Regions from separate parts of the Homo sapiens genome. Here regions 1, 2 and 4 are each reported to be linked to region 3. The links are microRNA targets in miRTarBase. Many come from high-throughput screens and were not tested one by one. Region 3 holds a microRNA gene; each other region holds the end of a gene's coding sequence.

Evidence for each region. The annotated mature microRNA hsa-miR-6729-3p reads UCAUCCCCCUCGCCCUCUCAG and lies in region 3 at 2,704-2,724, opposite strand. An mRNA with a match to its seed (bases 2 to 7 or 8) in the 3' UTR can be bound and repressed. Matches are read on the target gene's strand: a 7mer-m8 pairs with bases 2 to 8, a 7mer-A1 pairs with bases 2 to 7 and ends in A, and an 8mer does both.
Region 1: the mRNA of CLDN10 is a reported target of hsa-miR-6729-3p. Seed matches in the 3' UTR shown: 7mer-m8 at 1,160-1,166.
Region 2: miRTarBase lists STAC2 as a target of hsa-miR-6729-3p. Seed matches in the 3' UTR shown: 7mer-m8 at 847-853.
Region 4: the mRNA of FBH1 is a reported target of hsa-miR-6729-3p. Seed matches in the 3' UTR shown: 7mer-m8 at 5,791-5,797.

What each region holds. Positions count from the first base shown.
Region 1 is chr13:95,577,549-95,584,664 of GRCh38, forward strand. CLDN10 (claudin 10) reads left to right here. Exons shown (of 5, transcript NM_006984.5): 5 at 352-2,211. The coding sequence ends at 466. It overlaps DZIP1 (DAZ interacting zinc finger protein 1), which reads right to left. Exons shown (of 23, transcript NM_198968.4): 23 at 654-4,765. The coding sequence ends at 4,686. Among named protein-coding and RNA genes, the nearest start is that of CLDN10, 28 kb to the left of the region's middle.
Region 2 is chr17:39,205,808-39,212,923 of GRCh38, reverse strand. It overlaps STAC2 (SH3 and cysteine rich domain 2), which reads left to right. Exons shown (of 11, transcript NM_198993.5): 11 at 528-2,383. The coding sequence ends at 632. Among named protein-coding and RNA genes, the nearest start is that of RPL19, 9.1 kb to the right of the region's middle. RefSeq lists enhancers at 2,352-3,018, 3,019-3,685, 3,564-3,693, 3,714-3,803, 5,473-5,732 and a silencer at 2,983-3,092.
Region 3 is chr1:12,024,810-12,031,925 of GRCh38, reverse strand. It overlaps MIR6729 (microRNA 6729), which reads right to left and starts at 2,768; the gene lies at 2,704-2,768. It overlaps MIIP (migration and invasion inhibitory protein), which reads right to left. Exons shown (of 10, transcript NM_021933.4): 5 at 2,785-2,893; 6 at 2,645-2,703; 7 at 2,032-2,161; 8 at 1,802-1,898; 9 at 523-660; 10 at 1-204. The coding sequence ends at 118.
Region 4 is chr10:5,936,182-5,943,297 of GRCh38, reverse strand. FBH1 (F-box DNA helicase 1) reads right to left here. Exons shown (of 21, transcript NM_178150.3): 20 at 6,711-6,842; 21 at 5,705-6,188. The coding sequence ends at 6,018. LOC105376384 (a long non-coding RNA gene) reads left to right here. Exons shown (of 2, transcript NR_188180.1): 2 at 5,789-6,247. Among named protein-coding and RNA genes, the nearest start is that of IL15RA, 38 kb to the left of the region's middle.

The DNA of each region.
Region 1 (7,116 bases), not on the chromosome of region 3:
AGGACATGTTCTTCACGTTGGCCTCATCATAATTTTCCTCTAGGTAGGCAGGAATGTTGATGGCCTCTACTAAGTCTCCTAGCTTCCAGGAGGGTGAGTTTTAAAACATGGTTTTGTAAGAGGATAACTGAACAAATGACCAAGTCATGAGTTTCTTCTGCAGAGATTCTCCATCCCACTCAGAAATGACACTGAAAATACTTCTTGGGGCAAGAGGAGAGAAGAAAGCTATCTAAGAAAGAGGAAGATTTACATTTAGATATTGGCAGAGACAGGCCGAAACAGTTTCTTCCCATTTTTGTTTGCCCTATGTGTAGAATAGAATCTACCAAACTATGTTTTACCTTTCAGATACACATACAACGGGGCCACATCTGTCATGTCTTCTCGGACAAAGTATCATGGTGGAGAAGATTTTAAAACAACAAACCCTTCAAAACAGTTTGATAAAAATGCTTATGTCTAAAAGAGCTCGCTGGCAAGCTGCCTCTTGAGTTTGTTATAAAAGCGAACTGTTCACAAAATGATCCCATCAAGGCCCTCCCATAATTAACACTCAAAACTATTTTTAAAATATGCATTTGAAGCATCTGTTGATTGTATGGATGTAAGTGTTCTTACATAGTTAGTTATATACTAATCATTTTCTGTTGTGGCTTTCTATAAAAAATAAACAGTTTATTTACAGGATTTGTAAAATGTTTTCTACATTTATATAGAACATGAAAAGCATTTAGTACCAAAGGTTCAAGAAGTATTCGTACTCTAGCCTTTTTAATCATTCATAGATAGAAGTCTTTGTACCCACTCCTTATGTTTCTTTTCATTCATAAACAGGTGTATAAGGAACAATGTCTTATAAACAGCATGGGGGCAATCTGAGAATATTCCTCAAAAGGTGTCCAGGTTAAATAGACATGTTACTGGCTGCACACAGGCAAATTCTAGTTTGTTTTTTTTAAGTATTCTACAACATTTATTTAAAAAGGTAAATCTTTTTGTTGAAGCAGCAAGTTATCTGGTAGAACTTAACTTCTACAGGATCAGAGAGGATCTTGCTCATTCATGGCCATATCCACATGCCCATGGCCACTCAGTAGATTGTTGAAAAAGCAAAGCCACACCATTCTCTTTGATGTATGCAGAGAGTTACGTAGCAGGGGATGTTCTCTGATTTATTCCACTGGCACCATTAGTGAATATTTAGTTGTTTTCATAAACGATGCTGTGATGAAGACTCATGTACATATTTAGCAAATTTTGGTTTCTTACATGTGCCTGTCATGACTGTAATTCATTATGACTGCTCCAGGAAGGGCTAATGGGGCCAATATATTATTGCCTGTCATGTGGCACATCCATGTTAAGGGGCTGAGGCGTCCCTGGCACGGAATGCAGAGCCCTGAGCTAGGGCATCAGCAGAAGCTGAGATAGAGATATTGGTCATGGTTGACTGAGGAGCCAATTAAAACCTGTTTATGCCTAGTGTTCCATTATTGGAACACTAAGCATGTGGGAGTTATTTATATCCTACTGCTCAAGGTCATCGCCAAGGTGTGATTGGAAAAATTCAAAAAATTGCAACCTCAGGCATAAATGGGTTAAGGACATCCCAAGCCCAAGTGGTACGTGCCTCACTCAGAACTGACGGGCCGAGTTCTATCTAGGTGTGTCTTCCAGAACCTGTTTACGGCTAACTGGATAACTGAGAGACTTGTCATTTCTAAAGACATTTAAGTTGCTCCAGGGATTTCTGAAAAAAGACACAGGCTTCTTCCTAGAGCCAGCCCTATATAACATGCCCACAAGGGCAACAGTTATCACAGTTCATACACACCTTTCATGTCCTGTCTCACTCACTCCTCACAGCCATCCTAGGAGATACATATTGTTTTCATCCTGCATTTACAGAAAAAGAAATGAAAACAGAGAGCTTAAATAATTTGCCACAGTAATGTCGAAACTAGGCCTTTGAACCAAGGCAGTCTAGGGTAAAATATAGTTTCAAAGTATGAATAAGAATTGGTATTTGTGTTATCTTTGAGTAAGAAACTGTCCGATATGAATCACAACGTGGGTGAATGTAGTATTTTCCTGAAGTGTGAAAGACTTAAAAAAAAGAATCACATTGTTCAGAGGTGCTCAATGGAAAGAAAAGGAAATGAACAAGTTTGTTAAAAGATAAAAAATAAAAAAAATTCCATACCTTGATAATCCTTGAAATATCTTTTGCAGAAATACAAATCAACTGAAAGACATGAAGGTAGATTAGGTCCTACAGGCCAGTGTGGGACAGGGTTGTGTAGGTGTGCATTTCAAACACATTTATTATTCAGAAGTGGTGCAGATAACGCTTAGATTACACCGAAGAATTTAGGGAGGGTGGGGGATGAAGGTCTGTTAGTAACCAGAAACACATTAGTTGGGCATCAGTAAGGGGCAACATAAAGGAATGGTTCCCCTCAAAAACGAACAAACCAAATTTTATACAAAAAAATGAAATGCAGCAGGGCGCGATGGCTCACGCCTATAATCCCAGCACTTTGGGAGGACAAGACAGCGGATCATTTGAGGTCAGGAGTTCGAGACCAGTCTGGCCAACATGGTGAAACCTCATCTCTACTAAAAATACAAAAAATTAAGCCAGGCATGGTGGTGGGCACCTGTAATCCCAGCTACTTGGGAGGCTGAGGCAGGAAAATCGCTTGAATCTGGGAGGCGGAGGTTGTAGTGAGCCGAGATGGTGCCACTGCGCTCAAGCCTGGGCAACATAGTGAGACTCTGTCTCAAAAAAAAAAAAAAAAAAAGATACAACTAACCATGTAAGCTAAAGGAGGGGCTCTTAAAAGACACAGATATAGTGACTTAATTTAAATACTGGGTTTACTTAGCAAAAGTTCATTTCCCCAAGCTCTTCTGCTCAGGAATGAAAACATGGCAGACACAAAACATGGAATAGAGACCTGGCTTAAAGTCTCCCCTTGACACTTTGTACTTGTATGGCTTCTGGCAACTTACTTAATAACTCTGTTTCTCACACCTTTAGGATGAGGATTATAACAATAACTACATCGCAAAGTTGTTGTAATTAAATGAATTAGTGCGTGTTCAAAACCAAACCAGACCAAGTGGTTCAATAAATATCTGCTGAATAAATAAATGAATGAACAAAGTGGCACATGGGCCATCTTAGGCTTGGTGTAGTTTTGTAGATTGCCGTTCTCTGTCCTACCACATGAAACTTGGATTCGGCCTTCTGTTCTCTGTCCTACTACATGAAACTTGGATTCAGCCTTCACTAAAGCTTTTAGAAACATACATATAAAGTGAGTATATCTGCATGAAATGGCCCCTATAGGAAGTTGGAAGGATTCTTTTAGAGGGCAGGAATGGGCTACAAGTAAAAAGGATCCCAGGGTGGGTGGAAACAGATAAAGATTTGTTCTAACCATTAGGACAGAATGTCATATGGCATAGCAATCAAGGCCAGATTCTCCCTCTGTAAGACCCCTAATAAGTACAAATTTAACTCAGAATTCATCTCTAATAACACAGCCACAGTCACAGTGATGTAACAGAGGGCTTTACTGAAAAGGTTGACAAATGAAAAGAGATCTAAAACCCAACAAATCTTTTAGTTAAAAGGTTACTTGGAAACAGAATATAGTATAACCAAGTTATAAAAATGCAAAAAACAGCTTATAAGAACTTTCTTTCGACAATGTCATTGTTTAAGAATGTAACTAAATTACTTTTGAGGTATTTCATAATACATGTTGGGTATTTTAAATAGTAAAAAAAAACATACATATGTGAATTCAGTAATGGCTCAAATATTTTCTATTTAGTCTGATAAATTAATTGGCACTTAAAATAACTATACTTTATTCATAAAATATCCAAGATAAAGAATATGCTATATAAAATAACCAACCATTTAATAGTAACATGCTTACAGTGGCTCAAAGCTGAATGTGACAAATGTACTCCAGGAAAATGTATTTAACATTGGACCTAGCTATATTCTAATCCTAAACTTACTTTTTTGGGGTGTGGAGGGGTGGAGTCTTGCTATATTGCCCACGCTGGTCTTGAACTCCTGTGCTCAAGTTATCCTCCCACCTCAGCCTCCCAAGTAGCTGGGATTAAAGGTGAACACCACCACACTCGGATTAAACTTACTTCTATATGAAAAATAACCAGACTAACTTTTAAGGATTAGTGGTTCCACCAATTCAATTTTAAGACTACTAACAGAATTTTATAATATAAACGCCTACGATACGACAGCATACATAAGAAAAATATTTTTTAAAGTTTTAGTAATTCAAACCAAAACATGCTGTAAGTTTAAAAAAAATTCACTAAAAAATTAGTTGAAAAAAATACACTTAACACTAGAGTACCTTTCTGAAGAAAAAACTTTTTATGACTTCAATGACATGTTATTTTTAAGCAGCAGCGGAAGTCTTAAACACCTTTACATGCTTCGAAATACTGTTGATGATCTGATTTTCAATACTGTATTGGGTGCCATTAAAGAGACCATTGTTCTTTGAATCAGTCTCTGTGTTGCTGTGGGAAACACGGTAAGGCAGAAGCACTAGAATCATGGAGGCAAATTACTGAAACACTGTGATACTGAAATACTGCTGGCTTCTGGAATAATCTTCTGACATGTGGAATTAGACATCTGAAGTGTCGCTCCAATCAGTCACAGTTACTAAGCTGCTTTTTAATGTGCTTGATTCATTTTCTTGAAGTCCTGTAAGTGGTGGGTAGAGGCAGAAGAGAAGGCCTCAATGGTTAAACAAGCACATTGTCAAGTCTATAAAAATCCATAATTTCATATTGTCATTAATCACTCAGTGTCTAAATCTGTTCATGAATCCTCATCTCCCAACCCTCATGAGCTATGTATAGGACGCCACTTTAAAATCCAACTGTGAACTGGTCGCATCTCTAGGATACACTCAGGACCCTTGGATGCAAGCTTCTGCCCTGCAGCCTACAAACAGCAGGGACCACATCCTGCTTCCCACTCCTTCCCCAGCATTCAGCTCAGGGCCTGGATGTTGAAGGTGCTCAGTACATTTGTGTTGTAGTTACTGACTCTGAGTGAATAGATGGTAAAGAAAGAAGGATGAAATTAGCAAGCCAAGTAAAGTGTTAAAAACATATTTTCTAGGTAGATAGGATTAACAACGAAGTCAATTTTAAAATGCCATGATTTTGAGCCAGTGAAATAGAGTGCAGAGAATTCCACTCAAGTTTGACTCTAGAAATGTGTTCCTCCAGGGGCACAGGTTTATGATGTTGGAGGAAAGAGACAGGAGATGTCCTTAGGGCATCCTCTTGGCCCTGTAAAGAGTCACTCTAATGCCAACAGGTCTCCTGGTTTTCAATAATTAGAGTTGATGCTTAGCACAGATAACTGATGCCAGTTATGCAACAGCTATGTTATAACTGGACAATGTGAGAGAAAAGGTAGCGTGAAGGAGACAGGCAGCAACATCTTATCTTACAAAGGGGCGAGAGGCTGCTGAAAATGGAAAGAGCAAGGGTGGAGACATGCAGGTATTAACTTAAAATTACAGTCTGGGTGCAGTGGCTGACACCTGTAATCCCAACAGTTTGGGAGGCTGGGGTGGGAGGATCATTTGAGCCCAGGAGTTTGACACCAGCCTGGGCAAGCTGGTGAGACCCCATCTCTTAAAAAAAAAAAAAAAGTAATAAAATTATAAGTAGGAGTACAAAAACAGTGAAGAAGGCGTGAGAGGTGCGGTGGGTGGTGAAAATGAGCCAAGTCCCCATCTGTCTTTGCAGGACATCAACAGTTAATATCTAAAGTCAATGAATCAACAAAGAGTGGTTTAAGGCCATTACTGAGAGGCACAGAGCTACCACTAATGAAGGTGGTGCGATGGCATAGAGAAGCCTTCTGAACAACTCAGCTTTCAACATGTGCAAGAATTACTTTGACAAAAAAATTACAATTTTCTAATTTAAAAAAAAATTACTAAGTTATTGGGCTTATCTAGGCTCTAGATTGGGGGATATGAAAATCATTTCAAGTAATTATCTCATAGTATTTCATCCCACTGACTACACGGCTACAAGAGAAACCTCCCTTGGGAGAAAATGAAGAAAAATATTTAATAGGGAAACAGACTAATACAGAGAGACTGCCAGAAGAGTGGTCTCATTCAGGTATATGATCAGAAATTTTAATTCCTAAAAGGCATCTTCATGAAGAGAATACGTGTATAGACATTTTTAAAAATAATATAAAAGCTGGGCATGGTGGTGCACATCTGTAGTCACAGCTACTCAGGAGACTGAGGCAGAAGGATTGCTTGAGCCCAGGAGTTTGAATCCAGCCTAGGCAACATAGTGAGACCCCATATCCTAAAAAAAATAAAAAAATAATAATAATAAATTTTTTTTGAGACAGAGTCTCACTCTTTTGCCAGGCTGGAGTGCAGTGGCGTGATCTCAGCTCACTGCAACCTCCACTTCCCAGGTTCAAGCAATTCTCCTGCCTTAGCCTCCCAAGTAGCTAGGACTACAGGCGCGCACCACCATGCCCAACTAATTTTTGTATTTTTAGCAGAGACAGCGTTTCACCATGTTGGCCAGGATGGTCTCAATCTCTTGACCTCGTGATCTGCCCGCCTTGGCCTCCCAAAGTGCTGGGATTACAGGCGTGAGCCACTGCGCCTGGCCAAAAAAAAAAAAAAAATAAAAGAATACAAACAATTTGGGGGCCACGAGCGGTGGCCCATGCCTGTAATCCCAGCACTCTGGGAGGCCGAAGTGGGAGGACTGCCTCAGTTACTGGGGAGGCTGAGGTGGGAGGGCTGTTTGAGCCTAGAAGGTTAAGGTTGCAGTGAGCCATGATGGCCTGGGTGACAATAACACCGTTTCAAAAACAAAAAATAAAAATAAAAATAAATTAAAAATTTAAAGACTAAAGATTAGTCCTATAATTAAATAAAAATAACAAGTAAATATATATGAATCAGTGAGTTATGCATATCCAATCCTTATTTAAATAACATAAAGAAAGCACTGACAGCTTTTTTGTCTGATGATATACCAGCATAAGTTAATTAG
Region 2 (7,116 bases), not on the chromosome of region 3:
CGGGGGTAAATGCTCTGCAGGAGGAGGCTGATCTTGGCAGTTGAGGGGAAAGCGGGTTAGAAAGAAAGGGTTGCAGGGCCCTCCTACCAGCCCCTGCTGGGGAATTTGGGCTGGTGACCAACAGAGACAGGAGACTGAATGACATTAGAGGGAGCTTGGGTTAGCGCAGGAGCACTGGATTCAGAGTCTAAAGCTCAGGTTTGAATGCTAGCTCTGGCTTTTTGTGTAATTTGAGGCAAGTCCTTTTCCCTCCACCTCCTCTGTGATGGGGGTGAGGCAGGGCAGTACAGCGGCTAATCTCCAAGGTCAGCCCTGAAGTGCTGCTGGGTGTCTGCTGACGTGCTGGTCTTGCTGCTGAGGCCTCTACACTCCTGGGATCTGGTCCCATCACTCCAGCAAAGGGCTCCATCCACATCTGACACTGGTCCCATCATCCCCCAGGGTGGGTCCCCTGGGGGCCATGGGCAGGACTCAGGGCCAGGGCTGCAGGCCATGCCAGGCCTCAGCTCCATGTCTCTCTGGCTCAGATCTGCGTGGGCGTGGGCAGAAGCAAGGATGCTGACGGCTTCATCCGCGTCAGCAGTGGCAAGAAGCGGGGCCTGGTGCCAGTCGACGCCCTGACTGAGATCTGAGAGGAGCCAAGGGAACCCAGATGACACCCTTGCCCATGCCTGGACCTTGCTTCTGGCCAGGGAGGGGATCAGGCCCCCTTGTCCACTCCATACCCTTCCTCCCTCTGTCCCTCTCCTAGGTGCCACTTACCGTGGCTTAGGAGCCTTTTGTACTGGGGAAGATTTTATTTCTTGGGTGGGGTGCCCTGAGTGGGTTGATCCTCTGGGACTTGGCGGGGATGGGGTGGGGTGGGAGGGAATGAGGAAGCTACAGGTAGGTCCACCCAACGCCCAGGCACCCCAGTCTACTTGCTGGGCTGAGTCCAGCCCTGGGGAAGATTCCTGGGGAATTTATTTGCTGCTTCTCCCAGCCTTCCCCTGCCCACACCACCTGCGCATGCCTGGCACACCCCTCTCCCCACAGAGCCTCTGCTTGGGTCTATGTGTGTGTGACCGTGCATCTGCTCCTTTGCAAGTGGGGTCTTGGGAGCAGGCCTTTTTGTGTCCTCGGCCCTCCACCCTTGGTGGGGAGGGGACCCAGGACCATAGGAAGGTCCTGAGTCCACCTCCTGGTCTCCACCTCTGTCATTCCGTCAATTCTCAGGAAAGTTTTGCAGGAATCTCTCCCGTTACTTGAAACCTGGGCGGACAGATGAGGGGAAGGCTGAGGTCCCTGGAAGGTGTAACAAATCAGAGACTATCTGTTCAAGTAGAAAACCCAAGAGCTGGCCAGGTGTGGTGGCTCATGCCTGTAATCCCAGCACTTTGGGAGGCTGAGGTGGGCAGATCACCTGAGGTCAGGAGTTCAAGACCAGCCTGGCCAACATGGTGAAACCCCGTCTCTACTAAAAGTACGAAACTTAGCCAGGCATGATGGGGGTCTGCCTGTAATGCCAGCTACTCCAGAGGCTGAGGCAAGAGAATCACTTGAACCCGGGAGGCGGAGGTTTCAGTGAGCCGAGATTGCACCATTGCACCCCAGCCTGGGCAACAGAGCGAGACTCCGTCTCAAAAAAAAAAAAAGAAAGAAAGAAAAGGAAACCCAAGAGCTGCCTGGACACACGGAAACCCAACTGAGAACAAAATCCTGGCCCGTGCTTGGTCAAAGCAAACCCATTTCACTGTCAGGACCCCCGGTCACACAGGAACCACCCGCCAGGGGAGCCTGTGACTGTCAGTTCCTGTCCCAGGCTTTGCCCGGCCGCCCCAGGAACCCAACCCTCTGGGCTGACCTTTCTCCTGCTTCTCTCCAGGCTCTGCAGGGGACAGGGCAGGTGCTGCAGGAGCCCCTTTGCTGGCTTTATCTGCTCCCTTGTTCTGGACACAGAGCCCTGGGAAAAAGAGGGGGTGGAAGACAGACAAGGAAGGTGGAATGTTCTGTTTTGGCCACCAGGAAATGGGGTGGGGTGGGCATACACAGAGAGGACCCCTCTCTTAATACAGCTGCTTTTCTCGGTGCCAACCTCCCTCCCCCAAGCTCAGATCCTCCTCTTATGCCCTTGATTGTGCCAGCCCATGCCACCCCCATCCTGGGCACAGTTACACCCTCCCATGCAGTGGGAGAAACACAGACCCTCGTACCCAAAGGCCCCTGCCCCACTTCTCCCCCACAAAGCGGGGTCTCAAGCCACACTGCCCTGTTTGCTGCCATGAGGCCCCCCCCCCCAGCAATATCCCAGGGGCGGGCCCAATGCCCACTGTACATGAGGCTGCATGATGGGTCTGGGGCCTTGCTGATTCCCCAGACCCCTAATTAAATGTTTCTTGTCCCAGCCCATCTGCTCTGTGTCTCTCACTGGGACAGAGGAAGGAAAGGGGCAGGGAAGTGGGGAGTGGGGTCTGGGGATGCTGAGAGGGGCAAGGCTGAGGGTGGAAGAATTCCTCCGTCTCTGAAAGGAGGGGTGCTGGGCAGGCGGCAACATGGCAGGGGTCCCAGGCCTCATCCCTTTCCTCCAGCAGCCCGAGGAGGGTGGGGTCTGGGGAGAGCCAAAAGGGGACCTGAGGAAAGTGGGAGGAGGTCTGGGGACGCTGGAGGGAAACGGCTTGGGGCTGCGGTCACTTTCCGCCTCCATGTGCACCTGAGTCGCGCAGGGGCGGACATGCTCCTGCGCGCCAGGGCCGTCGAGGCCGATCTTGCCCACCCAGAGGTGCCCTCCGAGACCGGGCGTGCCGGGGGTCTGGGAGGGCTCAGTACCCATCCGAGGTCAGCCTCGTCCCCGCAGTCCCCCAAGCCGGAGACAGAAACGCTGGCGGCGGGGACAGTCGTGGCCCGTGGGTCCCCGGGATGACTCAGTCGCCCCTGTCATCGGAGCCCAGCATGGAGGGGCCGCACCCCTCCCGCCGCCGCGCTCGCCGCCCACCGCTCTGGCAGAGCTGCCTCCTTCCCCTCCGCCTGCCCAGCCGCGTCATCGCCACGGCGAGCACGTCCTGTGCTATTTATAGGCGGAGGGGAGCGGGGCGCCAAGGAGAGGCGGGCTGCGGGGGTGCTGGGGCACTGCTGGCGCTGCCCGGATGCAGAGTGGGGGCTGCCTTTCCTGATGAGCGCCCCCTCCTCCACCGGTTCCGGTTTACAGCCCCCGCCCCCTGAGCCAGGTAGGCCAGGTGGGCCCAGACCTTGGGTCCCCTCCTTGAGCTTTCTTTGGGCTCCTTGACTTGAGGAAGGCCCTGGAGGTTGGGGGTCGAGAGAGCCGGGAAAGGAGGGTGACCCTCCCCCTCCTAGGATCCCCAGCCCTGGGAGTGGAAGAAGGGGTCACAAGACCAGTGTGAATGCTTAAAGAGAGGGAACTCATAAATAGGCACCTACTGTGCCCAGGGAACCGTGCCAGGAACTTGATGTTACTTAATCCTTTCCAGGATCCTGTGAGGCGAGTGGGGGTGTCCTCCTCTCACAGGGAAGAACTGAGGCACAGCCAGGTTAGGTGGCTTATCTAAGGTCACACAGATTACCCAGCTCAACACTGCCCTCTTTATACATGGGGAAACTGAGGCCTGGAGTGGGCTAATGACTTGTCCAGGGTCACACAGCAAAATGAGTGATCAAGCCAGTCTTGGAAACCGCGGCTTTTTCTTCTCCTTTCAGCTCTTTCCCTCCCCTGCCCTGGCTTCCTCAATGCCTTAAACTAACAAAATGGAGACAGAGACACCCTGAGACGCTGGGCCAGAGGCTCCAGGGATCAAGAGCCTGAGAGCCTTGCAGCCACGCCTTATGCACACCCAGCTGTGTGTCTGCCACCAGCCGGCAGCTGGCCTGGACGCCCATCCCCCTCCAGCCTATTTGCCGCACTGCTGAGCACAGCAGCTTTTTTGGGTGGCTGAACCCCATGCAGCATGCTCACAGCCTAGGGCCTGGGAACAGTTGGTGCCCCACTGTAGCCTTTGCCCTCCTCTGTGCCCACTCTGGGGGTGGACGGACCAGCAACACTACTGGTCTGGGGCAAAGGGTGCCTAGGAAGCTACTGGTGATCCCAAATCCCACCATTTGGCTCTGTTGTCTCTGACCCACATGTGCCCTTCATGCCCCCCTACACAGAAGCTGAGCTTCACCTGGCTTGTACTGTGTGGGATGAAGGTTCCCTGGACTTCAGGGAGATGCAGAAAGAGGAGGGAGTCTGGAGAGATGGATGCTGGAGGTGGGGAGAAGAGAGAATGAGCCCCTCGGTGCAACCCTACTCATTTTGCCAGCACTGCTTCCTTTGGCCCCTTCAACCTTCTTCACCCCCATTCTTACCCGCTGTCCACCCAATGCCTGGGCAGGTGGGGGCACCTGCTGAGGAGTGCAAGGAAGGCAGCCTCAGCCTCCCTGTGCTTTGCAGGAAGCCAGCCTAGGTTAGCCCTGCCGTAGCCTCAGAGGCAGTACTGGAAGGAGGCCAGGCCCCTCTGTACCCTCTTCTCCAGCTCACAGCCCTGCAGTAGCAGCTGTGCTCAGTGCCTCTGCTGCACCCCAATCTGAATCACACCCTCCCACGTCGGGAGACTGCAGCCTGGGAATCAGAGTCAGGCGCCAGTGTTCGTGCAGCACTGAGGTTCTGCACACCCCACTTGTGTCTGCCACCAGCCAGTAGCCAGCCTAGCCCCCCCACCCCCGGCCTGTTTGCCGCACTGCTGAGCACAGCAGAAGAGTCACTGGCTCCTCTGGGTCTCTGTTTCCTCCTCTAGAAAATCAAGCATTGGGTTTGCTCAGGGATTCTTTACGTGGTAAGGGTGTGGGTCACGAGCTCCTTGAAAGGGTGTGGAATTATATGATAGGGACACTTGTATGCTCTTGAAAGAAAAAACATTTTTTTTTACAATTTTTTTTTTTTCCCCTGAGATGGAGTCTCTCTCTGTCACCCAGGCTGGAGTGCAGTGGCTCAATCTCGGCTCACTGCAACCTTTGCCTCCTGGGTTCAAGTGATTCTCCTGCCTCAGCCTCCCGAATACCTGGAATTACAGGCGCGTGCCACCACGCCTGGCTAATTTTTGTATTTTTAGTAGAGCCAGGGTTTCACCATGTTGACCAGGCTGGTCTCTAACTCTTGACCTCAAATTATACACCCGCCTCGGCCTCCCAAAGTGCTGGGTTTACGAGCGTGAGCCACCGCGCCCAGCCAACAAATTATTTTTGATATTTTTGTTTTAGAGACAGGGACTTATTATGTTGCCCAGGCTGGCATGCAGTGTCTATTCACAGGCACCGTCATAGCTCACTGCAGCCCCAAACTCCTGGGCTCACGTAGCCCTTCCCAGTCAGCCTCCAGAATAACTGGGACTACAGGCTCACGCCAATGTGCCTGACAGGACACATCTTTTCTTTTTTCTTTTTCCATAAGTAAGGAAACAAGAGGACACATCTTTTAATCAGATTTTCTCAAGGCTACAGGACCCGGAAAAGATCCAGCAGTTACTTTAGGGGTTCTTTCTGCTTGGGGCTCCTGTGGGAGTGGATCCCTCCTAGGCACTGGCCTGGGAAGAGGTTGGAGGACCATGGTGGAAAGAGGCCAACTTCAGGCCTGGGGTGAGGTTAGGAAAGAAGTGGGGAAACCCAAGGCCTTCCAAGAGGTGGGTTCCTACAACTTCCTAACCCATCTCTTTCTCCCGCCCCCGAGAACAGACAAAAACAAAACCAAAAAAAAACTCCAGTGAGGCAGCAGCTGACACCTGCATTGACCTGTGAGCGAGTAGCACCATCTTCTGGTCCAGGGTGGAAACCAGCTTCTGCGCTGCAGGCTCTGGAATCCTGGGAGGGTCTCATATTGGGTTACCTCATTCTCCTTCCTGACATTTTTTTTTTTTTGGTTGGGGGTTGGGGGGAAGGGTCTGGCTCTGTCACCAAGGCTGGAGTGCAGTGGTGCAATCTTGGCTCACTGCAGCTTCCACCTTTCGGGTTCAGGTGATCCTACCACCTCAGCCTCCTGAGTAGCTGGGACTACAGGGGTGCACCACCATGCCCGGCTAATTTTTGTATTTTCTGTAGAGATGGGTTTTCGCCATGTTGCCCAGGCTAGTCTCAAACTCCTGGACTCAAGCAGTTCTCCCGCTCGGCCTCCAAAAGTGCTGGGATTACAGGCGTGAGCCACCACACCCAGCTTCTCCTTCCTGTCATCTCTCTACTGCATGGAGGGGTTGGGGGTGGGCAGTCTCCACTACCCCTCCTCCTCTGGGCCAGGCCTGGGAAGCAGGTGTCCCACACACCAAGCTGGGAGCTTGGCCAAGACCCTTCCCTTTCTAGGCCTCAGCTTCCCCACTTCAAAGGGCAAGAGCTAATGGGTGAAACACGCTGGCCGCTCCAGTGGCCAGGGGGATCCAGAAGCCAGTGTCCTCTCATCCCAGGCTGTGAGGCATACGATGGGGGGTCCTCTGGACATTTTCTTTTTCTTGAGATGGAGTTTCACTCTTATTGCCCAGGCTGGAGTGCAATGGCTCTCGGCTCACTGCAATCTCTGTCTCCCGGTTCAAGCGATTCTCCTGCCTCAGCCTCCCAAGTGGCTGGCATTACAGGCATGTGCCACCATGTCTAGCTTATTTTGTATTTTTAGTAAAGATGGGTTTTCTTCACGTTGGTCAGGCTGGTCTCGAACTCCCGACCTCAGATGATCTGTCCACCTCGGCCTACCAAAGTGCTGGGATTACAGGCGTGAGCCACTGTGCCCGGCTTCCTTGGGACATTTCTAAGTGTGGGCTTCCCTGCCTTCTGCTACCCACCTGCCCATCCTGCCCAGAATGGCATGAGGACGCCAGAGGCAGAGCTAGGAGTCTGCTGGCCCTGACACCATAGCCAACCTGCCATTCCCACTCAGGTCTTGCCCTTTTCCATCAGCCCATTACATGCCCTGAAAGGCACGCCAGCTCATCACTCCAACAGAAGAGTTCCTCAGAAAAGAGCTGGGGGGCCAGGCACAGAGGCGGGTGGATCACCTGAGGTCAGGCGCTCAAGACCAGCCTGACCAACATGGCGAAACCCCGTCTCTACTAAGAAATACAAAAATTAGGGGGCCGGGCGCGGTGGCTCACGCCTGTAATCCCAGCA
Region 3 (7,116 bases):
AACCTAGGACAGCTGGGCCTGAGCTGGGCGGGCAGGGGATTCCATCTCCTGGGTGCGCCTGCCAGAGGGGAGAGGCTGGAGGCGGCGGGAATGCTGTTCTCCCCCAGGAGTCAGTCCTCAGGGCTTCTGCCGTGGGACGTGGGGCCGAGGGACCTGGGGCACTGACCAGGTCGGGGTCGGGGGCAGCATCTGCATTGGTGAGGCCTGGATGGGGAATAGGGAAGTCTCAGGGGGGCCACTTGAAAGGGACAGGTCATCCCCAGTTCCAGCCACATTCCCTCCTGGATCTTGCAGTCAGGGTGGCCTTCCTGGGTGGAGCAGGGCAGGCGGCAGGGAGCAGAGGAGTTCCGAGGGATGGCTAGGGTCAGGGCTGGAGGGCTGGACCCTGCAGAGAGACACTCCCAGGCTCCATCCTCCCCACCTCAATCCTACCCCCCAGGAGGCTCTGCAGTCCCCAGGCCTGCTGCGAGGTCTCTGTCCCTCTAGGGGGCACCCCAGGCTAGGATGCGATCTGGACCGTACCGGGTGAAAAGGGCTGCTGGTGCCGGACAGCTTCTGGTGCTGGGCCTCAGCGGAGACAGAGGACCAGAGGTCCAGGTTCCTGGGGGCTGAGCTTTTCTCAGACTTCGGAGGAAAAATGTCCCAGCCCAGCAGGCAGTGCTGTGGAAGGCAAGGAGTTAAAAGTGCCTGACCTGGGACAAGCTCCCCGCTGACTGGGCACACCCCCATCAGGGAGGAACTGTGCCCCCCATTAGGAAGGAGGCCCCCACCAAGGCAGGGCCTGTGTCTACCCACAAGACTACCCCAGCTCTCCCCTTTCTTATCCTGGCAGATCCAGCCATCCCTGGGGCCCTGAGAGCTGAAATGGGAGGAGGATAGGACGGTGACAGTGACATTCACAGGGTACTTCCTGCTGTAGGCTCTCCAAGCACCTGCATGGATTGCTTCACTCAACAGCCCCACCTCACCACCAACATCCCTGAGGATGGCGCTGTTATGTCCATTTTACGGACCAGCAAACTGACTTTCCTCTGCATCCTTCTCCTCCTCTGACCCCAGCTGCCCTACTCTCAATTTAGGAGTCAGGGGGAGTTGCCACTGGCACCCCATCCCGACCTGGAGACACAGGAAAGGACATTTTTTTTTTTTTTGAGATGGAGTCTCACTCTGTCACCCAGGCTGCAGTGCAGTGGCGAGATCTCAGCTCACTGCAGCCTCTGCCTCCCAGGTTCAAGCGATCCTCCCACCTCAGCCTCCCAAGTAGCTGGGACTACAGTGGAGGCTGCAGTGAGCTGAGACCATGCCAATGCACTCCAGCCTGGGCAGTAAGAACAAAACTCGGTCTCAAAAAAAAAAAAAAAAAAAAAAAGCAGCAGCAGCAGCACAGAGACCTAGGTTCGAATCCCAGCTCCTCCACCAAGGCGCCTCCCCCTCTGCTTCGGTCTCCCCACCTGCAGGGTGGGGGTACAGCAGTGCCTACACTCCTGGCTGCTGTGGGGGCTCCATGAGATAAGCCCCCTAAGGACTGTGCCTGCAGTACACAAAAGCGCAATAAACAGGACCCATTCATGTCATGCCAGCCTGCAGGCAGATCACCCTGGAAGCACCGGGGTACGTGGAGCGGGGGTCCTACCTCCCTTAGGTACAGGTGTGGGTGATGGAAGAGGCCCAGGCTGTGCTCCAGAGACTTGGGCGCTCACCCTTGTCGAGCCCAGTCTCGCTCTGTGACCCTCCCTGGGGATCTGGGCCAGTCTGAGCCAGCCCCGCCCTCATCACCATCCAGCCCCACGTGGCTGCTCACCCGGGGCAGGGCCAGTGTGTCAGAGGCGTCAAAGCTCTTTCGCCGGTGGATGTGGTACCGGTGCGGGGGCTCCAGGATCGACAGCGGGATGCTCACCCTGCGCAGGGGGGCAGTGGGGGACCCCTGAGGAGCCTCCCAGCGGTTGGGGGCCCACGCCCAGGCCCATCTTTTCTTAAAACCAGTGGTTCAGGCTCTGTCCCCCAAGGTGTCCCAATACTCTGGTCACTCACCTGACGTGCGCTGGCTGCGCCAGGGTCCCAGGGCCCTGCTGGTCTCGCGGTGTCCTGCACAGGCGGCAGGGGGTACCGGGATCCACAGGCACCGGGAACAGGCGCCGGTTGACACGGTAACAGTACACGCCTGCGAGGCCCATGAGAAGCCACAGCTCTCCCTGAGCCAGGAACCCAGGTCCCCAGGCTCCGTGCTGCCCTCAGCGGCCCCCAACCACACAAGCTGCCAATCCCTCTGGGAAGCCCTTCGGCCCATTTCCTCCTAACCCCTTTCCTCCCAGAACCTGGGGCCCACGCCCTAAGGGGTGGGGAGGGACATCCTCCTGGGGCCCTCAGGAGCTGGGATGGAGTCCCACCAGCACAGGGGCACTGCTGGGGAGGGTGGGATGGTGCCACACAGGGCAGCCCCTAATTCGGTGGCCAGGCCTTAGCTCACTCCACCCCTACCAGGGCTTGGCCACCCTGTCCAGACTGCAGGCCTCCCTCCATGAGTCTCAACATCTCAGGGGCCTCCCCAGGCCCCAAACCTCAAATGGGACTGCTCTGGGGCAGGGGAGGCCAGGGCAGCGCGAGGCTGGACTACTCAGCGGCCTAGCCGAGGGCCCGCACTCACATTCATGGTCTTCCTCCACGCCGCTGCCACTGCTCTCACGCAGGCCTGGCAACTGGGGTCTGAGAGGGCGAGGGGGATGAGCAGGCCGGGGGATGGAGCCGCTCAGCCGCCCTCGCCCACCCTCGCCCGCCCCTGCTCACTCAGGATGGCTGCAGATACACTCCTCCTTGTTGGTTTCCCGAAACTCCTGCAGCTTGGAGAAGAAGGCCTCAGGCTGGCTGGTGATGGAAGAGCTGGTGTCCAGAGACCCTGGTGTGGGCAAAGCACCAGGCAGCTGACGGGAGAGGGGCTGGGGGCTGCTGTGTGGCCACCGGCCAAGGCTTGGAGAGACGATCAGCCCTGGCACCCCAGGCCACCTGCTTCATCCCTACTGTGCCTCAAACAGGCCAGGAGGGCCCCTCCAGTCACTGGGACTGTTGGTTGGTTTCAGTGTCTGTCTACCCTGATGCATAGCCAACCATCCATGGAAAAAATATCGACAGAGCCCTTATGACAGGGCTAGATGCTGTTTCATGTGCCAGGAACTAGACAGACAAAGCCCCTGGCCTTAATGAGGCTTACACTGTAAGGTGGCAAGAGATGAACTAGCCACCAAAAAAAAAAAAACCCGTGATACAAGACTGAATGCTGATACCTGCCAGAAAGCAAGAGAGCAGCGTCAGAGCCTAGTATGGCCGGGCAGCCATACCAGGGAAGGCCTCTCCGAGTGAGATGACCCTGAGCAGAGACATGGAGAAGCCACAGAGACCTCCCAGGAAGGACATCGCAGGGAGATGAAAGAGCAAGCGCAAAGGCCCCGGGGTGGGCATGTGCATGGTTCAGCTGAGGAACAGCCAGGAGGGGAAAGTGGCAGGAAGGCAGCGAGGGTGGAGGAGATGAGGTTAAGAAGCCCAGGGAGGGTCTGGGGAATGGGAGGGACACAACCACATCAGCCACATATTTTTACAGAACTCCTCCTCTGGCTGCTTCAAGTTGAGGGGAAGCAGAGGCATCGGTTAGGATTCAGCTGGGGAGAGGTAGGGGCAGCCCCCAACTTACCATGATTCGACTTAGGATGTTTCTTTTTTTATTTTTTGAGACAGAATCTCACCGTGTTGCCCAGGGTGCAGTGCAGTGGAGCGACCTCGGCTCACTGCAACCTCTGCCTCCCAGGTTCAAGCGATTCTCATGTCTCAGCCACCTACAGAGCTGGAATTACAGGCGTGCGCCACCACACCCAGCTAATTTTTGTATTTTTAGTAGAGACGGGGTTTCACCATCTTGGCCAGGCTGTTCTCAAACTCCTGGCCTGATCCACCTGCCTCGGCCTCCCAAAGTGCTGGGATTACAGGCGTGAGCCACCGCACCCGGCCTAAACAGTATTTTCAACTTATGTTGGGTGTATCAGGATGTAGCTGGATGGTAAATCCAGCAAGTTTATGGCCTGACCTATTTAGTATTTGGAGTTGCCATTTATGGAGACAGGAAAGACTGCAGGAGGAGCACAGCAGTGGAAATCAGGACCTTGATTTCGGACAGAAGGTTAATAACTTCATGGTGATGTGGAGAAGACAGTGGGATATACAAGTCTGGAATTCGGAGGAGAGGTGCGGGCTAGAGATACAAATGGAGAAGTAGAGAAAGTGTCCAAACACCTCAGCGTTTGGGAGATCATAGAGGGAAGATAGAGAGGAGGAGTCAGAAGACCGAGTCCCAGGCCTAGGGGTGTAGCAGTCAGAACAAGGACCTTTCCTTCCCCAGAAGCCTGGGAAGGAGCACCAACAGAGATGGGGGAGAACCGGGAAGCAAGTGGCTGGAAGTCCAGGGGAGAAAGTGCTTCAGGAGTGACCACTGTGTCCCCTGCTACTCAAAGGAAGATGTGGATGAGGGCTAAGCTGGGGAGTTGGCACCACGGAGGCCACTGATGACCCAACTGAGGGCCATGTTGATGAAATGCTGGGAGCTGAAGCCCGATTTAAGAAATAGTAGTGGAGGCTGGACACAGTGGCTCATGCCTATAATCCCAGCACTTTGGGAGGCCAAGGCGGGCAGATCACTTGACATCGGGAGTTCCAGACCAGACTGGCCAAGATGGCGAAACCCTGTCTCTGGCTAAAAATACAAAAATGAGCTGAGTGTAGTGGTGCATGCCTGTAATCCCAGCTACTTAGGTGGCTGAGACAGGAGAATCACTTGAACCTGGGAGGCGGAGGTTGCAGTGAGCTGAGATCACTGCTCCACTGCACTCCAGCCTGGGTGAAAGAACGAGACTCCATCTCAAAAAAAAAAAAAAAAAGAAAAAGAAAAGGAATAGTAGTGGAGAGAAATTGAAGGCAACGAGGCTAGACAGCCCTTTTGAAGAGGAAGTTTTGTTATCGAGAAAACAGGCAGTCACTGGAAGCAAATGTGGGCTAAAGGTAGGAATGTGGCATCGGGATGAGAAATAACAGACAGCGGCTTTACCCCGACTGGATGTGAGCTGCTGGTAAGATTCTGTCTCACCGGGCCTCAGCCTTCCCATCTGTGAATGGGCACCATGGTGGTGCCTACCTAATAAGCTTATCATGAAGGGCAAAGGAGTCAGCGGGAGGAACAGGAAGCACAGCTCGGAGCGGTGCCTGGTGCAGGGAGCATGAGATACAACCAGCTCCCAGAATGCTTCCTGCACGTTCATGCTCATGCTAAGGGGCAGGATGAGGATGCAGGACAGAGAGGGAGAGGATCACAGGAAGGAAACCCTGGAGGAGCCAGAAGCAGAGGGGCGGAGCACGCTGGAGCAGGGCCAGGGTCCAGGTGGCAGCATGGACAGTCACCTCGGCAAAGGCAGGGGAGCAGAGCGCATGGACCAAGAGCAGGTACTGGGACAGGCGCTTCCATTTTCCCAGAACCAGGAAGGAGGGCAGTGAGCTGAGAGTTCAAGAAGTACTCAAGGGCAGGGCCTGTGTCCCCGCCACCAGTTGCTCTCAGCAACTCCACAGTACACCTGTCTTTGTTTTTTGAGACAGAATCTCACTTTGTCGCCCGGGTTAGAGTGCAGTGGCTTGATCTCTGCTCACTGCAGCCTCCACTTCCTGGATTCAAATGATTCTCCTGCCTCAGCGTCCTGAGTAGCTGGGATTATAGGTGCCCGCCACCACACCTGGCTAATTTTTGTATTTTTAGTAGAGACAGAGTTTCACCACGATGCTCAGGCTGGTCTCGAACTCCTGACCTCAAGTGATTCGCCCACCTCGGCCTCCCAAATTGCTGGGATTACAGGCGTGAGCCACCATGCCTGGTCGTGGCCTCCTTTCTGGTCCTGCCATGCCTGTGGCCACCCCATTATGTGTGTAATCCCAGCACTTTGGGAGGCCAAGGCGGGCAGATCACCTGAGGTCAGGAGTTCGAGACCAGCCTGGCCAACATGGTGAAACCCCGTCTCTACTAAAAATACAAAAATAAGCCAAGCATGGTAGTGGACGTCTGTAATCCCAGCTACCTGGGAGGCTGAGGAAGAATTGCTTGAACCAAGGAAGCGGAGGTTGCAATGAGCAGAAATAACACCACTGGACTTGACTCTGGGCAACAGAGAAAACAAATAAAAATAAAAAAGGAGGAGGCCGCGAGGCTGGAAGAAAGACGGGAGGTCACATCATGGGGCCAGTAGAGGCCAGATCATGCCTCGTAAGTCTAGATAGGGATTTTGGATTTTACAGTAAGTGCTGGGAAAAGCCCATGGGGAGGTTTGAGTAGGGGAGTGACATGATCTGATTCCCATGTTTAAAAATTCCCTCTGGCTGCTATGTCAAAAGTGACAGTGCACAACCATGTCACCAGCAGCATTATTCCCAACAGTCAAGAGATGGAAAGCACCCAAGTGTCCATCCCTGAATGAACAGATAAACAACATGTGGCATCTACACACAACAGAATGTCACTCAGCCTTAAAAAGGAAGGGAATTCCAGCCAGGCACAGCGGCTCACACCTGTAATCCCAGCACTTTGGGAGGCCGAGGCAGGAGAATCACTTGAGTGCAGGAGTTCGAGACCAGCCTGGCCAACACAGTGAAACCCCATCTCTACTAAAAATGCAAAAATTAGCTGGGTGTGGTGGCGCACACCTGTAATACCTGCTACTCGGGAGGCTGAGGCACAAGAACCACTCGAACCCGGGAGGTGAAGGTTGCAGTGAGCCGAGATCACACCACTGCACTCCAGCCTGGGAGACACAGTGCGACTCTCTCTCAAAACAAACAAAAAAAACAACAACAAAAAACAAAAAACAAAAAAAAAAAGGAAGGGAATTCTGACACACAGTACAACATGAATAAATCTTGAGGCCGTTATGTTAAATAAAATAAGCCAGTACAAAAGAACAAAGGCTATATGATTTCACTTATATGAGGTCCCTAGAGGAGTCAAATTCATAGGGACAGAAAGTAGAATGGTGACTGTCCAGGGCTGGAGGGAGGGGGAATGGGAGTAATTATTTAATGGGGAGAGAAGTTTTTGGG
Region 4 (7,116 bases), not on the chromosome of region 3:
GGGGTCCAGATTAGGAAGACATGTATTAGGAAAATGATTACTTTAAAAAAAATAAAAAATTCAGGCCAGGCATAGTGGCTCACGCCTGTAATCCCAGCACTTTGGGAGGCTGAGGCAGGTGGATCACCTGAGGTCAGGAGTTCAAGACCAGCCTGGCCGACATGGTGAAACCCCGTCTCTACCAAAAATACAAAAATTAGCTGGTTGTGGTCACATATGCTTGTAATTCCAGCTACTTGGGAGGCTGAGACAGGAGAATCGCTTGAACCCGGGAGGCAGAGGTTGCAGTGAGCGGAGATCTCACCACTGCACTCCAGGCTGGGTGACAGAGTGAGGCTCTGTCTCAAAAAAAAAAAAAAAAAAGAAAAGAAAAAAAAATCAGAACCACTGAATTGTACATTTAAAAAAGGAAGAAAAGAAAAATCCAGGATGTCAGCACTGTGCTGGCCGCTTCCTGGGGCCCTCAGTGAGTTCCTTTAAAAGACAGGCTTAGGGTGACAGAGGCCAGCCTGGAAATGGACAGGAAACGCCAGCCTTTCCGCTGCGGTCCAACTTGGGCTGACGCCCTCATCGCAACAGGAGAGCCCTGCAGGGTTGAGGCAGGAGGGTGACCGGCGTTAGTCTTCATTGTAAGATTGCAGGTCCCTCTACATGGGAGCGAGTTGGGCCAGGGCAGAGGCACAGAGCAACATAGACTACAACTGGTCCAGGAGGCAGAACGGTGGAGGGTCGCGGGCGGGTGGGTGGTGCACCCTGGAGGCCGCGTGGAGCTTCCCAGTGAACTGGCATGAAGAAAAGTATCACAGCCCGATGGTGGTGCTGTTTCTGGAGGTGGGGAAGGGTGCGTGGAGGAGCCAGCCAGGCTCGGAAGGAAATCAGGGGCTGCATGTGGGACATGGCAGGGCTGAGATGTCACGAAGACAGCAAATGGAGTGATCGACTGGCGACCTTGGCGTTTGAGTGGGAAGCCCCCCTCCCTCCACCTAACCTACCTCTCAGCCCACGCCACTAGGGATAAAACACACACAGGTCCCCAGTGAGGAGGATCGCAGGGGACGGCACCTCCTGGGCCCTCATGGAGAACCTGTCCCTTAAGTAGGCCAGGCAGAGGGAGAGCCCCTGCCGGCTAAGGGAGCCCTGCCCCCCACACCAGCCCAGCTGTGCAGAGGTGCCTTGGCCAGGGGCGTGCGTGTAGCACTGTCTTCATGTCTGGGCAAGGAGCTGGAGGAACCCTGCCTGCCTCGGTTCAGACGTCTCTACCGCACCCACTCACTGCAAATGTAGAGTGATCAGCTTCCAGGCTCTCGGTGTACCCCACATTGCTAAAGCCAGGGGTTCAGGGTGACTAGGAAGGACTGAAGGGCAAGGATCAGACTTGAAAAACATGTTAAATTGCTAATAGTCTGATTCTAGGGGTGTCAAAGTCCCTTTGTGATACAGTGAGTTGCTCCCAGACACAGACCAAATGCCACTACAGGACGGAAGCTGGGCAGGCAGCGTGACAGTGACCAGCTTCCCAGGCAGGAAGGTCCCACGGGGGTGCTGCACTGCCTTAAGTTTATTAAGCTGTGTCTGAGTCCACCATGCGACGTCTCTGCCCTCATGCCTGGGCTGCTAAAGGAAAAATACCAGCTAAAAGGATGGTGTTTGATGTCAACTGGGAGGGTGCTGCCCGGCACACCTGTGTTTTCCGTCACCTTCCACTCCATTCCCTTCTATGTCCATCCCAAACGCTAAACCCAGCACTTTGGGAGACTGAGGCAGGTGGACAGCTTGAGCCCAGGAGTTTCAGACCAGCCTGGGCAACAGAGCGACACCTCATCTCTACAAAAAATAAGCAAAAATTAGCCGGGCATGGTGGCATGCACCTGTAGTCCCAGCTACTTGAGGGGCTGAGGTGGGAGGGTCACCTGGGCCTGGAGGTCAAGGCTACAGTGAACTGTCACTGCACCACTGCACTCCAGCCTGAGTGACAGAGTAAGACCCTGTCTCAAAAAAACCAGAAAATTATTGGGTGAGAGCAACCTAAACTTCCTCCCTAACCACTTACAACGTACCCCTTTCTCCTTCATCTCTCCCGTCCCAATCCCTCTCATCTGGCTTCCATCTCTCCTCTCTGAATTTGCTTCCTCTCAACACATAACCCTGCACAAACCTCTCTCGTTTTAAAAGCAAAAACCCCTCCCTAAGGCCACGTCATCCCCTATCCACTTCTTGCCTCTTGCCAGCCTTGCTTTCTGAGAACTAGTCTACGTGGTGTCCGTATCTTCACCTCCCACTGGTATTTTATGGTTCTATCATACAGACACATAGTTTAGAGCCAACAGTTATGTAAGACACCTACCAAAAAGCTCCTCCACCTGCCCGTTCCCCCTCCCAAAAGGAAACTTTTAGAAATCTTTCTGCTGAGTGTCTCGGTGTGTGTTATGCATCTCCAAGATATCTCTAAATGATGGGCTCACATGGGCTTCTGCTTCCATGTTTGAGTTTCAGGCACTGTGACTGACTTCCTGCCGCAGAGGCTAAGATTCGGCTCGTTCACTCCACATGTGCACACAGCTCCTACCTGCAGAACACGCCCACCCTTATGAAGGCCATGAAAGCAGGTACACTCCACTGAGCTGGTGGTGGGGGGGGTCAATTACAGTTCTCTCCTACACAACCTGTCGCCTTCCAGAGGACTAATCATTGCCTTTTTCCCCCCAGGCTACGTCCTGCGCTCTGTCACCCAGGCTGTGGTGGTCAGTGGTGCAATCATGGCTCACAGCAGCCTCAACCTCCCAGGCTCAAGCCATCCTCCTGCCCCAGCCTCCCAAGTAGCTGGGAACAAGGCATGCGCCACCACACCTAATTTTTTATACTTTTTGTAGAGATGGGGTCTGCCTATGTGGCCCAGGTTGGTCTTGAACTCCTGGGCTCAAACAATCCTCCCACCTCAGCTTCCCAAAGTGCTGTGATCACAGGTGTGAGCCACCACGCCCGGCCAATGTGGGCCTATTTTCACCCATTGTCCTGGGCATTTAATGAGTCATTTCAATCCAGAAACCCTTACCATCAGTTTCAGGTAATTTTCATAATTAAAAAAAATGTTTCGGCCAGGTGCGGTGGCTCACGCCTGTAATCCCAGCACTTTGGGAGGCCGAGGTGGGCAGATCACGAGGTCAGAAAATCGAGACCATCCTGGCCAACACAGTGAAACCCCATCTCTACTAAAAATACAAAAAATTAGCCGGGCATGGTGGCATGTGCCTGTAGTCCCAGCTACTCAAGAGGCTGAGGCATGAGAATCGCTTGAACCCAGGAGGTGGAGGTTGCAGTGAGCCGAGATCAAGTCACTGCACTCCAGCCTGGGCAGCAGAGAGAGACTCCGTCTGAAAAAAAATTAAATTTAAAAATTCCTTAACTCTGTTGTCCATTTTCTCTTCCTGCAATTCCCATTCACAGATGCTCAACTTCTTAAATTGGTTCCCTAGTTTTTTTTTTCTTTTTTTTTTTTTTTTGAGACAGGCTCTCGCTGTGTCACCCAGGCTGGAGTGTGGTGGCACAATCTCAGCTCACTGCAACCTCCACCTCCCGGGCTCAAGCCATTCTCCAGCCTCAGCCTCCTGAGTAGCTGGGATCACAATCGTGCACCACCACACCCAGGTCATTTTTTGTAGATGGGTTTTGCCATGTTGGCCAGGCTGGTCTTGAAGTCCTGAGCTCAAAGCGATCCACCTGACTCAGCCTTCCAAAGTGCTGGGATTACAGGCATGAGCCACCACGTCCAGCCTCTAACTACTTCTCAATCTTTGTTTTTGCTCTACTTTCTAGATTCTCAACTTATTATTTTAACAGTTCTACTGGGTTTCTTTTCATATTTTTTGCTCCAAAATTTTATTTTATTTTTATTTTTTGAGACGAAGTCTTACTCTGCGTCCCAGGTTCAAGAGATCCTCCTGCCTCAGCCTCCTGAGTAGCTGGGATTACAGGCACATACCACTACACCCGGCTAATTTTTGTATTTTTAGTACAGGGTTTCACCATGTTGGCCCAGGCTGGTCTCGAAATCCTGATCTCAGATGATCCACCCGCCTCAGCCTCCCAAAGTGCTGGGATTACAGGCGTGAGCCAATGCGCCCGGCCCCAAATATTATTTTATACATATCTATCCTGCTACTCTATGGAATGCACTACCTCCTCCATTCTCTGAATGTGTTAAAGATATTTAGATGTTTTCTTCTCCCTGTACAGACAGTTTGCTCCAAGTTGATTCTTTGGTTTTGACCTCTAGCCTTCATCTTAGGGGCCGGGTCATCTTCAGATGTTTGATGATCCTGATGCCTCCAGGATCACTGCTGCCTCCTTCCTGTTGTCTTTGCCCTTAAGGGTTAAAACACACACACACATACACACACACACAACTTTTACTGCCCTTACAGTATGGCTTCAGAAAGAAACCATAAATGAACACATACTTCTTAGCCCTCAAATTTTTCACTCACATTTTAGGCCACAGTGGTCGGCTTCTCACCTAACTGAAACTGATCAGCTAATGTCAACTGACCTTGATAGTGCTGGTTAAACACCTGCCCACCCTTGTTTATTTGGTCTATTTACTGCACTGGATGCTGAAGATCCCCTTTTCCTGAACTCCCTCCTCTCCGGAGCTCAGTGGTGCTCCATCACGAGGCTCCTCTGGATCAGCTGTCGCTCTTCTTAAACCCTCTTCCTCTCTTCACCCCAAGCCTCGTGTCCGCCGGCTTTGCTTCTCGGCCCTCTGCTCTTCTCATTGTCTAAACTCTCCTGGATTAACTCGGCGAAACCCTTCAAACTGCACCACCACCTACACACCGACAACTCTATAAAGTCCCCAGGTCCAGCCAGGCCCTTTGCTGCAGGACAGATGTGTTCACCCAACAGCCTCCTAGACGGTTCCACTCAACATGCTGAAAACCAAACTGATCACTGCGTTTACACAAACCTGCTATAGCTCCCATTTTCCCTGTCTCAGTGAAGATGACCTCTACCACTGAGTGTCCCTATCATGATCCCAGTACTCCAGAAATCCGACCGATTCTACCTTCTAAACATCAAGAGCAGAAGTTTCCCAACTTAGCATGCATGAGCATCACTTGTCAGGCTTGTTATGTACGAACAGCTGGGCCTCAACCCTGGAGTTTCTGATCCTGTAGGCCTGGTGTGGGGACTGAACATTTTTATTTCTAACAAGTTCCCAGGTGATGTTGCCGCTGCTTGCTGGAACCACACTTTGAGAACCACTGATCTTCGCATCCGTTCCCTCCTCACCAGGCCCCACAGGCGCTGTGGTCCAGCCCATCTGGGGTCATTTCTTGCTGAGATTATGATCCTGTTAGCCTTGTAATTTATCTGACCTCCTTAAAACATTATTGTTATTTGAGACAGTGTCCCGCTGTCACCCAGGCTGGAGTACAGTGAGCTGTGAGGTGACCACGGCTCACAGCCTCAACCTTGGGCTCCAGCAGTCCTCCTGCCTTGGCTGGATTCAGTGCTGGGGTTACAGGTGTGAGCCACTGCTCCCGGCCAAAGTCTCATTTTTGATGCCTCAGTTCCCACCCAAGACATCACGTCTCATACTCTGCTTCCTGTGTCTTGTGAACAGTGACAGTGCTGTAGGAAAGAGTAAGCTGGAAAAAGAGAAGGTTCAGAACGACAGTGCTGACGCAGACATCACACAGCGGTATGCCAGTGCTATGGTGCCTGTTTAATTGAAATCTTGTAATAAAAGTTTAAATACATAAATTTTTTTTTTTTTTTTTATCAAAAGAACATCCCCCACTTCCCTGACCAGATACATCCAGAGGGGAGGCAAGTGGAGACTGGCTGTCTGTAGGGAGTGGAGAAATGGCAGGTCCAGCTTGGGCTGGTGTCCTCTTCCTCAGAAAGTGCTGTGGGTGAACCCAGAGTCTCAGGGAGCAGAAGCCCCCCTCGCTGGCTTTCTTCACGCGGGGTCCTCGGCAAGCTGCTCTGCACTGCGGAGAACGTGCGCCTTGTCCTCAGAAGACGAGGAAGAGCAGGGCCTCATGCCGGGGCAGTACGATGTTCTCCACAGTGCGCTCCATGGCGCGCACCTGCTCCGGGGAGGCTGTCAGGAACGCCAGGGGCCCGATGCGCTGCTCCGCACAGGAGTGGCAGAGGTAGCCCCCCTTGTTTTCCTTCCTGTTGCTCTGTGGTGATGGACAAGAGAGAGAGCTAAGGGGAACAACCAAAGAACATGGATTTTCCAGCAAAAAGCATGGAGTTATCATCACAGCTGCCCAGGGACAACGCATTTGGATTCTGATGTTTTCAGAGGGGTGCACATCCTCAGAGTAACACCTCCCACAGCACCACCAACTAGGTGGCCTCAACACCCCCAAATTCCCTGAGCTCAGAAACAGTCATTTATCCAGTCAAGATAAAGAACCAAGAAAAGCTGCGCTGGGACCCCAGGGAACAGCTCTCTCTCTAAGCGTGTATCACAACCCAGCCTCCCAGACCTGCGGCTTCAGCACAGCCAGGCAGCATCACGTGCCCTGACCTCTGACCCTGGGACAGACCACACACCTCTTGTGCCTCTCATATGAAAAGCCCCTAATAAAGGATCACACAGCTCTCTCTTATCTCCTCACCTACAACCCAGATAAGCACAGAGCTCACAAGCAAAAAATGCAAATGGCTGAATTAAGTTCCACAGACAGCAGACGTACATAGGTGATGGGCAGCTTCTTCATGGTAAGGACGGTGTCAACAGGGATGGCATTGTTGCACTGTCCCACGCAGCAGCGCACCACGCCTGTTTTTAAGACGTTGCTTGTCAGCTCTGCTTGCAAGAAGTACTCCTGAGAAAGAAAGAGCGAGAAAGAGAGTCATGGCGACACCTCCGTTAGGGTCTACTGGAAACACTGATAGCGGCGGCTCTGTGAGAACCCTTTAGATGCACTGTAAGTCCCAGAGAGAAAAACCCCGCCTAACCCGTTCTCCCTTACTTCCTCTAACTTTTCCCTGCCTCCAAAGCTATCGACAGTCCAACTGACAGTCCAATTGCTTTTTAAATATATATATATTTAACAGATAAACATGCAAAACTATTGCCTGTAATGACATTTCCAGAAT